Linked DNA regions of Homo sapiens. The protein of the gene in region 1 interacts with the protein of each later gene in a pairwise test. Each region holds a gene or a part of one and is shown on either strand. Other genes may lie near its edges.

Region 1 (3,500 bases):
AGAGGGACATGAGTAGGTCCTGCTGCCCAATAAATGAGCTTTGCAGGCACCAAAGCTTGGTTATGACATGATCAAGCTCCTCACTTTATCCCTCCTTGCCTGAGTGCCCTGGTTTTTTACATTTTCACCAAAGGACAAGGAGGGCAGGGAAAGGGAGTGATTTTCAGATCAGGTAGGCTTTAAAACTTCAAGGAGTGACACTGGAGCCAGGAGTGTCAATCCACTAATTTACTTCCCATGTGGTCTTGAGTAAATCATTTCTCTAGTCTGAGCTTAATTTCCTTAGCTGTCAGGTAAGACGGTGGACCTGGAGGTTTAACATTCCAAGATTTTACAACAAAGGACTACAAAACTCCCCTTCCCAAATTAGAGAACTACCCTGGAATGACCCTGTTCCTACAGGCCAGGCTCCACCTCTGTACCTTGGGCCACAGAGTCCGACTGCACGTCACCATCATAGTTTTTACAGGCCCAGATGAAGCCTCCCTCTGATTTCATAGCTTGGGCCACCATGTCGTCGATGAGCCTATGCTCATACCAGATCTTTTGAGCTTCAAACTGGGACTTGTACTGCCTGGGAAACAAAAGGTAAAAGAGAATAATAATAAAGAAAATTGATTTTGTTAGGGATATCATCTGCTTGTCCCAAACAGAAGACCGGACACACAAGAAGCAGCATATTTTAGTAGAAGTAGCAGAAACTCAGGAATCTGACAGACATTGGCTCAAATCCTAGCCCAATCATTTTCTAACTGTAAAACTCAATTTGACTATCTGTAGGAACAATTTTACCCACCTTGCAGGGAAGCCGTGAGAATTAAGTGAGACAGTAGAGTATCCCAATGACTACTTCACTTTTCAGTTTTCATTATACTATAGATCAGATTCTTGAGATTCAGCTTATTTTTAAAATACATTTTTGAAAAGACTGTTCTACTTCTTGGTGTCATTCAGGAAACTAAAATATATTCCAGACAGTTTCTGGGCTTGGTATAGATGGGCAGCAGGAGGAGGAATCAAAATGCCTCAGGAACATTTTGGCCTGAACACTTGCACCTAAAGGGAGTTATGCCAATCTTAAATATTAACACATGCTCACCTCCTGTGCTGTGGAAGCCAGTGTTGTTATAAACTTAGACTTAAGTTCAAATGACTCCACTAAAACAGAATTTTAAATTCTTTTTTTTCTTTTCTTTTCTTTTTTTTTTTTTGAGACGGAGTCTCGCTCTGTCGCCCAGGCTGCAGTGCAGTGGCGTGATTTCGGCTCACTGCAACCTCCGCCTCCCGGGTTCACGCCATTCTCCTGCCTCAGCCTCCCCAGTAACTGGGACTAGAGGCGCCCGCCACCACGCCCGGCTAATTTTTGGTATTTTTAGTAGAGTCAGGGTTTCACCGTGTTAGCCAGGATGGTCTCGATCTCCTGACCTCGTGATCCGCCCGCCTCGGCCTCCCAAAGTGCTGGGATTACAGGCATGAGCCACCGTGCCTGGCCAACAGAATTTTAAATTCTAACAATGGGCTTCAGAAAGAATGGAAATGGGTCTGACTTAGAAACTCACACATGAAAAATTAGAACTTATCACTAACAGCGTACGTTTATTTAAACATTAAAGAACCTGGCTCTGAAAACAATTCATGTGGGGACCTTATTTAAGAACATGTTTATCTTATAAAAGCAAGTCAGAGTGGTTTTGTTTCACTCCTGCTAAACCTCAGTTTTGCCCTTATCTTTAAGAGACAGTGATGATTTTCACTCAATTTACCCAGAATCATAGGGATAGGGAGATACATACTCTATATGCAAATGTCAGCTTACTTGAGAATAAAGAAAAAGTTAAAAAAGAACTATAGTTACTTGTCATATATCTCCTGAAAGATGTCTTTAAAACGCCCATCATATTTCTTCAGAATAGTGTTTTTGGTGCTCAGATACAAAGGCCAACCCTTAGACAGAGCCATTTGGAAGGAACTGTGTGCAAAATCTTCAATTGACTTATCTTGATTATACATCCCCATGGCAACACCACCACCTTCTGTAGAGGAGAAGCCAGTGAGAGGAAAAAAGGGAGAAGAATAAATGTAATGTAGTTGTAATAAGGCTAAAATCACCCACCACAACCAAATGACCTACTTCTCAGCTCTCACATCTGAGACTAGATTTCAGAAGTCCCAGACAGGTTTCCAACAAATTTCTGAGGCACATAATGAGAGAAAAGCCAGTTCTAGATAAGGACATTCTAACTTGTTTTGGAAGGACAGCAGAAATGAAAAAACATACAGTCTTTAAAATCCTGAAGATGCAGAAATGCCAAAAACTGATATGAACCAGAAATACATTTAAGAAAAGGCAAATAATTTTGAAACTTCTTTTACATACTGATATGGTTTGGATATTTGTCCCTTCCAAATCTCATGTTGAAATGTGATTCCCAGTGTTGGAGGTGGGGCCCAGTGGGAGGAGATTGGAACATGGGGTTGGATCCCTTATGAATGGCTTAGGACCATCCCCTTTGGTGATTACGTGAGTTCTCGCTCAGTTAATTCACTTGAAATCTGGTTGTTTAAGAGTCTGGGACCTCCCCCTTCTCTTTCTCTTGTTCCCGCTCTTGCCATGTGATACACCTATTGTCTGTTTGCCTTCTGCCAAGATTGGAAGCTTCCTGAGGCCCTCACCAGGAACAGGTGTTGGAGCCAGGCTTGTACAGCCTGCAGAACCATGAGCCAATTAAACCTCTTTTCTTTATAACTTACGCAGCCTCAGGTATTTCTTTATAGCAACGCAAGAATGGACAAACACCCTACCTTTACAATTCCCAACATCTATTTTAAACTTTAGGGGTGTACTCAATCCTCAGTTATTGAGAAAAACTTAAATTTCAAATACTGAATGAAAATTCTTATAATCTCCTGGAGGATACTGAGCACTCCTACTGTAGTTGGTAGAAATAAGTAGAAATAATTATGCTACATGTAATCACTGTGTTTTACAACTATTATTGAACTTTGTTATTACTTAAAGATAGAACTTGAATCCATGCCAATGCTCAGGGTTAACTTGGGTTCAGGGTGAAAGGTGCTGAAGCCTGCAGAACCAGATTCCAACAGATATTATTTGGAAGAGGCAAGAAAAACAAAAGGTAGGTGAGTGTTGGGTATTTTTGTTTGTGTGAGTGCTTTCAACAACTTCAATAGTGAAGGAAAAGGGCCCACTAATTATTTCAACAACTTTTGGGTGGGATTTGCCATCAAAGGTAGCAGGGTAGCTGGGAAAGAAAAGGCAAAAAGCAAATGTTCTACTTTTTCACAGGATAAATACCCAGAAGGGCAAGAAGAAAACTTCAGCAAATATATAAGGAAACCTCTTCCAGATACAAGAGCCCTACCAGAGCAAAGGGCAGGATTATATGCTGGGTGATTTGAGAATATTAATATTTAATGTATATAATTCATGCACAGCAGATTTCTGCCAACCTTCTCTCTGTGCTTTAAGATAAATGCAT
Region 2 (2,166 bases), on another chromosome or scaffold:
GGCATGCACCTGTAATCCAGCTACTTGGGAGGCTGAGGCACGAAAATCGCTTGAACCCAGGAGGTTGAGGTTGCAGTGAGCTGAGATTGCACCACTGCATTCTAGTCTGGGCAACAGAGCAAGATTCTGTCTCAAAAAAATAAATAAATAAAAATCATAAAAAATTAAAAATATTCTATGGAAAGTCAGAAGGTTTTTGATTTGCGTAAACCATTACGTTCTATAAATGCAGGATAAAAATGACACATCAGAAGTAACACTTGTTTCAAAAGCAGAAAAAAGTTCCTCTTTTTGAGGATAAGGGTGCTTCCTCTATTTAATACTGGAAAAAATTTCTATTTTACTCTAATGTTGAAAGTTTCTTCTGTTCTCAACTTTGCCAGCTTATGTTCTGGCAAAAATATTAGATGTTAGATTTCTTAAAATTCAGAACTTGCAGCTCCACTTAAAATACATACTTAAACGCTACTCAGAAAATGTGTAGTGTGATTAAACAAATATTTAAAATTAGACACAAAAAATTTATGCAAAATTCAAACTGTATATAATTCACATTTATGCTTCTAAACAAATAGAAGCTCACATCTGTACTACTTTTACAATTTACAAAGTGCTTTTATATACATTTTCTCATTTGCTATTCATGACAGACACGTGAGACAAATATTCTTATTTTACAGATGGAAATAGACCCAGACATTATTCAGTACTTTAACCACTAATAGTGGAACCCTGAGACTTTAGATCTGCAAAGGGGTTTAATAATGCAAATATCACATATATTTCCATTTTTAACACCATATTTAAGTTTTCCATTTTCTTAATAGAAAATGATAAAAAATGTTTTCCCCAATATAATAATACAAATGGAAAATATTATAGACAGTCATATACTAACCCAATGACCAAGATTCACCAGAAGCAAAACCTATTTGGAGGGGTCCTATATTGTTACATATATACAGGGCACCAGCACCAGAACCACATTTAGACTAATACTTTTTATTTCTAATTAAAAGAAAACAATGCAGGGCACTCCTGCAGCCTGCAAGTCTAACTGTACATACGTATGTGTCAGACTATGCAGGTGGCCAAGAAGAATGCAAAGAGATATTTTATCCAAATTTGGAGTTTAGGGCCTGATTGTCCTAGCTTAAGCCCATAGGAACCTGACAACTCGTTCATACCTCTCATCTTTAGTCATAGTTTCTCCTTCTCCATCCCCTTTTCTCCGTAACTACCCTGTGCCATTTAGACTGGAAATTCTAACAGGTAGCTTTTTCTTTCTGAATTATCTTTACTACTGTATAATTTTTATTTTCAGAATATTCCTTATTTCTACATCTCGAAGACATTTCTTTATAGTAGATGGGGGAGCTAGAGCTTACATTCACTGCCAGAAAAGGGTCAGTTCCAGTGTTAATTTCCCAGCAAACACCTGAGAGAAAAACTGAACAGAAAAAGAATAGTGATAGGTGGCAGAGCAGTGACACCTGTGCCCAGAAAGCCGCACTGCAATTGTCTAATATTTGAGGCTCTCCTTTGTTATAACTCTGCCAATTTAAACTAGAAAATTCTGGCTGCTTGAAAATTCAAAGCAGATCAATACATTTAAATCACCGGTTCAAAAAATCACTCTTTTTCATGTTATAATGTTTTTATTGCAATTGAGGATGTTTTCAATAAGTATCTTGAGCTTGAGGCCCTGGCTAAGTATTCCTTTTGTACTAGAAATCAGATTTCTCTGGCACAATTCCATTGCCTGCAATGGTCTTTATCAAAACTACAAAAGCCAGCACACTATTTCAATATGTATTCAGTTGTTCATATCTAAATACCTCATTAGCTATGAAACAAACCAAATATAAATGCTGAATATACAGTACATAGCAACAGATTCTTCACAGAAGAAAACAATGAAAGACTAATTTTCTACAATATGTTACCTGTTCATTAGTTCTTCAATAACATTACTTAGGCTATTTCAAGGATAACAAAATGTATGCGCCACTACCCATGTTTTCGCAACATTTTTTACCTAGGTTCTAAAGGGAATAAATGAGGATGCATATAGTCAGATTTATTTTTATAAACTTCTGATGTTTCTTTTGTTGTGCATCTTACATGAATATATGGAGACAAGAACAGATGTACACTTAAGTCATT
Region 3 (4,103 bases), on another chromosome or scaffold:
GCGGTGAGCCGAGATCGCACCACTGCACTCCAGCTTAGGCTACGGTGCAAGACTCCATCTCAAAAAAAAAAAAAAAAAAAAAAAATGCATAGGCTGGGCCAGGCGTGGTGGCTCACGCCTGTAATTCCAGCACTTTGGGAGGCCAAGGGGCCAAGGTGGGTAGATCATCTGAGGTCAGGAGTTTGAGACCAGCCAGGCCAACATGGTGAAACCCCATCTCCACTAAAAATAATTTAAAAAATGGGCAGGGCATGGTGGCGGGTGCCTGTTATCCCAGCTACTCAGGAGGCTGAGGCAGGAGAATTGCTTGAACCCAGGAGGCGGAGATTGCAGTGAGCCAAGATTGTGCCACTGCACTCCAGCCTGGGCGACAGAAAAAGACTCTGTCTCAAAAACAAGCAAACAAAAATGCAAAGGCTGGATGAATGAGGTAAGATATAATGTAAACAGTTTTCCTGGAGTGCAGCTGGTCACAACACATCTCTAAAATCTTGTCTAGCCTACGCTACTGTCCAGTGAGGTTAGTGCAGGCATCATACCCAGGCCCTGAAGGATCCCACTCTGTGACACCCTTGCCTCCTTCCAAGCCTCCTTTGAATCCACTGCTGATCTCCTCTGCCCAATAAAACCCCCCTTCTCAGGCCGGGCGCAGTGGCTCACGCCTGTAATCCCAGCATTTTGGGAGGCCGAAGCAGGCGGATCACCTGAGGTCGGGAGTTGGAGACCAGCCTGGCCAACATGGTGAAACCCCGCCTCTACTAAAAATACAAAATCAGCCGGGCGTGGCAGCGCATGCCTGTAATCCCAGCTACTCTGGAGGCTGAGGCAGGATAATCGCTTGAACCCCAGAGGCAGAGGCTGCGGTGAGCCGAGATCGCACCATTGCATTCCAGCCTGGGCAACAAGAGCGAAACTCCGTCTCAAATAAATAAATACATAAAAATAAATAACAAAAAACAAAAACCCTTCTCCACCAATCCCTGTCAGCAAGCAGCCCGCCTGCCTCCAGGAAAAGGAACTCAGCTTTCCTCTGGGCCAAGAATGCCATCCTTACGTGAAAAAATGCTTGCCATCACTTAAGGCCCATCTCAAGTGTCACCTGCAAATAATGCTTTCAGCCGACAGCCTCTTCTTTTCTCTGACACACCCCGCCCCCATCATTGCCCTTGTCTGTCTCCCGAGGGAGCTCAGGATGGCAAGGCCTAAGTCTGATGCACGTAAGTTCCTAACTCCACCCTGTACCTGGCTCAGGGCTCCCTGACAAGCCCCAGCAAATGTTTCCCTCACTTAATGAAGTTGGAGGCACACATCCCTCCCCGGCATTGCCCAGCTCTCTTCTATCACGTTCCCGTCCCTCACAAGGGCAGCCAACACTGCCCCTTGACCTGAGGCCCACCCTCGATCCCTCCCCTTGGGTACCTGGCTGACAGGGCCCCCAGGGTGGCGCCAGTAGCCTCCAGCCAGGCCTAGGCGGGGGAGCACCTGCTGGGTGTTTCTTAGCTTGCTCTCCCTCCCTCGCTTCGCTCCCCTCAGCCGCCGCCATCCGTGCCCGGCGCTCCGCGCAGCTGCGGCCCAGGCCCAGAGAAAAGGTGTATGTCTCCCTGGCAACCCATCACCACGCAACAGGGTCTCCCGGGATACGGCCCGGGATGCGCTGACGTCAGCGCGGAAGGCGCGAGCTCTCCGCCTGCTGGCACAGCGCCGAGCAGAGCAGACCGGCACGGGGGCGGCCTCCCGGCCCGCCGCCGGATAGCGCCTCCGCCCGCCGGAAAAGGGAGCCAGAAGCTGGCTGGCCAGGCGTGGGTGGGGGCTGCAGATCCCCTTTATATGGATGACGTCCTCCTTCCCCCCACCACCAGGGGCCCAGCACCTCTGGCAAGTCCTGACTGTCCACCGAGGAAGGGCGGGAGGACCTGCTCCAGCCTCGGAGGGTTCGAGCAGATCCCAAAGAGGATAGAGAGAGACCCCGAGGAAGTTCGATCCACTCCACAGCCCAAGCGGGGTCCGAGGACACTGAGAGGAAGGGGAAAGGCTGTTGAGCTGTGCCCCTACTTCTGCAGAGATCCCCATTTTCATCCAGTATTGCCGTATCATTTCTCGGCCCCTCCCCCACCTTCCAGAAGACCAGCGCCCACTGAGTGCTCTCCTCAACTCTAAAAGCCCCCATCCCACACATCACTGACCCTCGGGCCCCTGGGGCCATTCTGTGGCAGCCCACTTGCCACCTTCCTGCTCTGGATAAATTTTGCCTCAAAACCCTAGGGTGAAACCAAACAATGATAAATTCTGACTCTCCTTCCCGTTTCCCAGCCTACCCATTCCTCTTGGAAAGCACACTGAGTTCTTCCGCCATCACTGTCCCCCCCACCACCGCCACCCTGGACCCTTTGCAGGAGGGTTGCCTTCCTTCTCTCTTCCTGCTGCCTTCTTTCCTCTCGCCAGCCTCAGCTGGTCCACAGCTCTTTACTCTTCTTTTCTGACGAACTCATGATATTTTTTCTGATTTTCACCCCTGTCCCCTGAAGCCGTTTCCTGATGCCCTGTCTGGCCCCAGCCTGGTTCTCCCTGTTTCAGCCTGGTTCTTAATATCTAAGCCAGAGTAATTTTCCTTTTCCACCTAAGCACCCTACTGCTCAGCTTCCCATCATCTCCCAGATCACATCCATGATCCCTGGTCTCACCTCTGCGACTTGTCTGACAAGTCCATCGTCCTCCAGGCCCTTCACGCTGCCACAGAAACATTTTGCCCAGCACAGAAATCATAGGCATGCTGGCTGTGTTGATGCAGAGAACCAAAAGCCCAGAACCGCTCCAGGCTCAGCTCCCAGTTCTATTCCTGTTTTGGCTCCGGATGCTGAGCCAGTCCCCTCCCCATTTGGAACCTGTGCCTAGTCACATAAGGAGAACATTCCTGCCTCATGGCTCTGAGGAGGTGGGAACACCAGGGCTCAGCCAAGCTCTCTGGGACTCGGGGAGCTGAGGCCCATTCCCTAGACAGTGCCAACAGGCAATGTACATCACAACTGACCTTTAGCTGGAGCAGCCGTCTCTATCCCTGAGCCTCGGCCAGCTGTTGGTCCCCAGAAATGCTACCAACCAGAAGGAAAACAGGAGGTTACAGGCCATCCCTGGCCCCCAACTGGTACCTAACCAGGGCTCTCGAGGCCAGTCCTGAGGTCAGCCAAACTCACCCCTGACAAGAGAAGGTGATGACTTCCTGAACTCCAAGCCTTGATAGGGCCAGAGAGATCAGAGCAGTCAGCTGCTCCTCAGCTTCAAAAGCCACGAGGTTAACTTAGGACTACAAATCCCAGAATTCCTCAAGGGAAGTACAAATCTCAGCCAGTCTTAGCTCCAAAGAACATCAAGTACCAACCACACCAAGGCCTGTGTGACTGACCACCTGCCCTGAAGGTCCAGGACCCATCCCAAACCCAGTCCTGCCTTGCCTTATGCGTGGAGAAATCCACCACACCGGAGTAAAGGAAGCTGGCCGACCTCTGATGCACAGGACTACGGCCAGGCCCGGTGTGCATGGCCACCCACGGAAACCGAGGCCCAGGCAGGGGTCAGCACTGTGGGAAGGAAGCCCTGATGGCCTGCCTCTGGGTTCCTCTTTCCCTCCACAGAGTAGAGTGATTTGTTTTTGCTGAGTGGGGGCAGGACATTAAAACAACTGTAATAGGTGAGAGGTGATTCAGTGTTCACAGGTGCCCCAAACGGGACCTCAGTCCCCCTTCGCCGACTGACTGAAGAGGGGAGTCAATGTCCGACAAAAATTCTGTGGTAGGGTGCTTAGCCAGGACCGAAAGGCTACCTCTTTAAGAAGATGGGGACACGGCTGGGAGAAGCAGGTTCCCAGCACAGGGCCACTCCCAGGACTGTGAAGGCAGAGGTGTAGGCGGAGGGGAGTGTGTGTGTGGGCGCGCAAGGCCAGTCGCCGAGGGCTGGAGTGGTGGGGGCATCGGGCTGCCCAGCCCCTCCCGGGGCTGTGCGTCTCCGGCCACCCTGAGCAGTGGGCACACGGCAGCCAGCGGCGAGACCATGCGTCTGCCCTGCAAAACCCCAAGGCAGGCAGGCCGTGGGAGCGAACCGGAGTCGGT

The links. The genes of interacting proteins can lie anywhere in the genome.
Region 2: the proteins of IDH1 (region 1) and AGGF1 interact in a two-hybrid assay, tested with the Homo sapiens proteins (one large-scale study listed by BioGRID and IntAct).
Region 3: the proteins of IDH1 (region 1) and FAM131A interact in a two-hybrid assay, tested with the Homo sapiens proteins (one large-scale study listed by BioGRID and IntAct).

Annotation. Positions count from the first base shown.
Region 1 is NC_000002.12:208,241,572-208,245,071, forward strand, and holds part of IDH1 (isocitrate dehydrogenase [NADP] cytoplasmic), read right to left. Parts: intron 2,034-3,500; coding exon 1,856-2,033; intron 575-1,855; coding exon 423-574; intron 1-422. UniProt on the Homo sapiens protein: Catalyzes the NADP(+)-dependent oxidative decarboxylation of isocitrate (D-threo-isocitrate) to 2-ketoglutarate (2-oxoglutarate), which is required by other enzymes such as the phytanoyl-CoA dioxygenase.
Region 2 is NC_000005.10:77,063,569-77,065,734, reverse strand, and holds the end of AGGF1 (angiogenic factor with G patch and FHA domains 1), read right to left. Parts: 3' UTR 501-2,166; downstream 1-500. UniProt on the Homo sapiens protein: Promotes angiogenesis and the proliferation of endothelial cells. Able to bind to endothelial cells and promote cell proliferation, suggesting that it may act in an autocrine fashion.
Region 3 is NC_000003.12:184,336,297-184,340,399, reverse strand, and holds the start of FAM131A (protein FAM131A), read right to left. Parts: upstream 2,801-4,103; 5' UTR 2,770-2,800; coding exon 2,682-2,769; intron 2,014-2,681; coding exon 1,871-2,013; intron 1,568-1,870; exon of another isoform or gene 1,420-1,567; intron 1-1,419.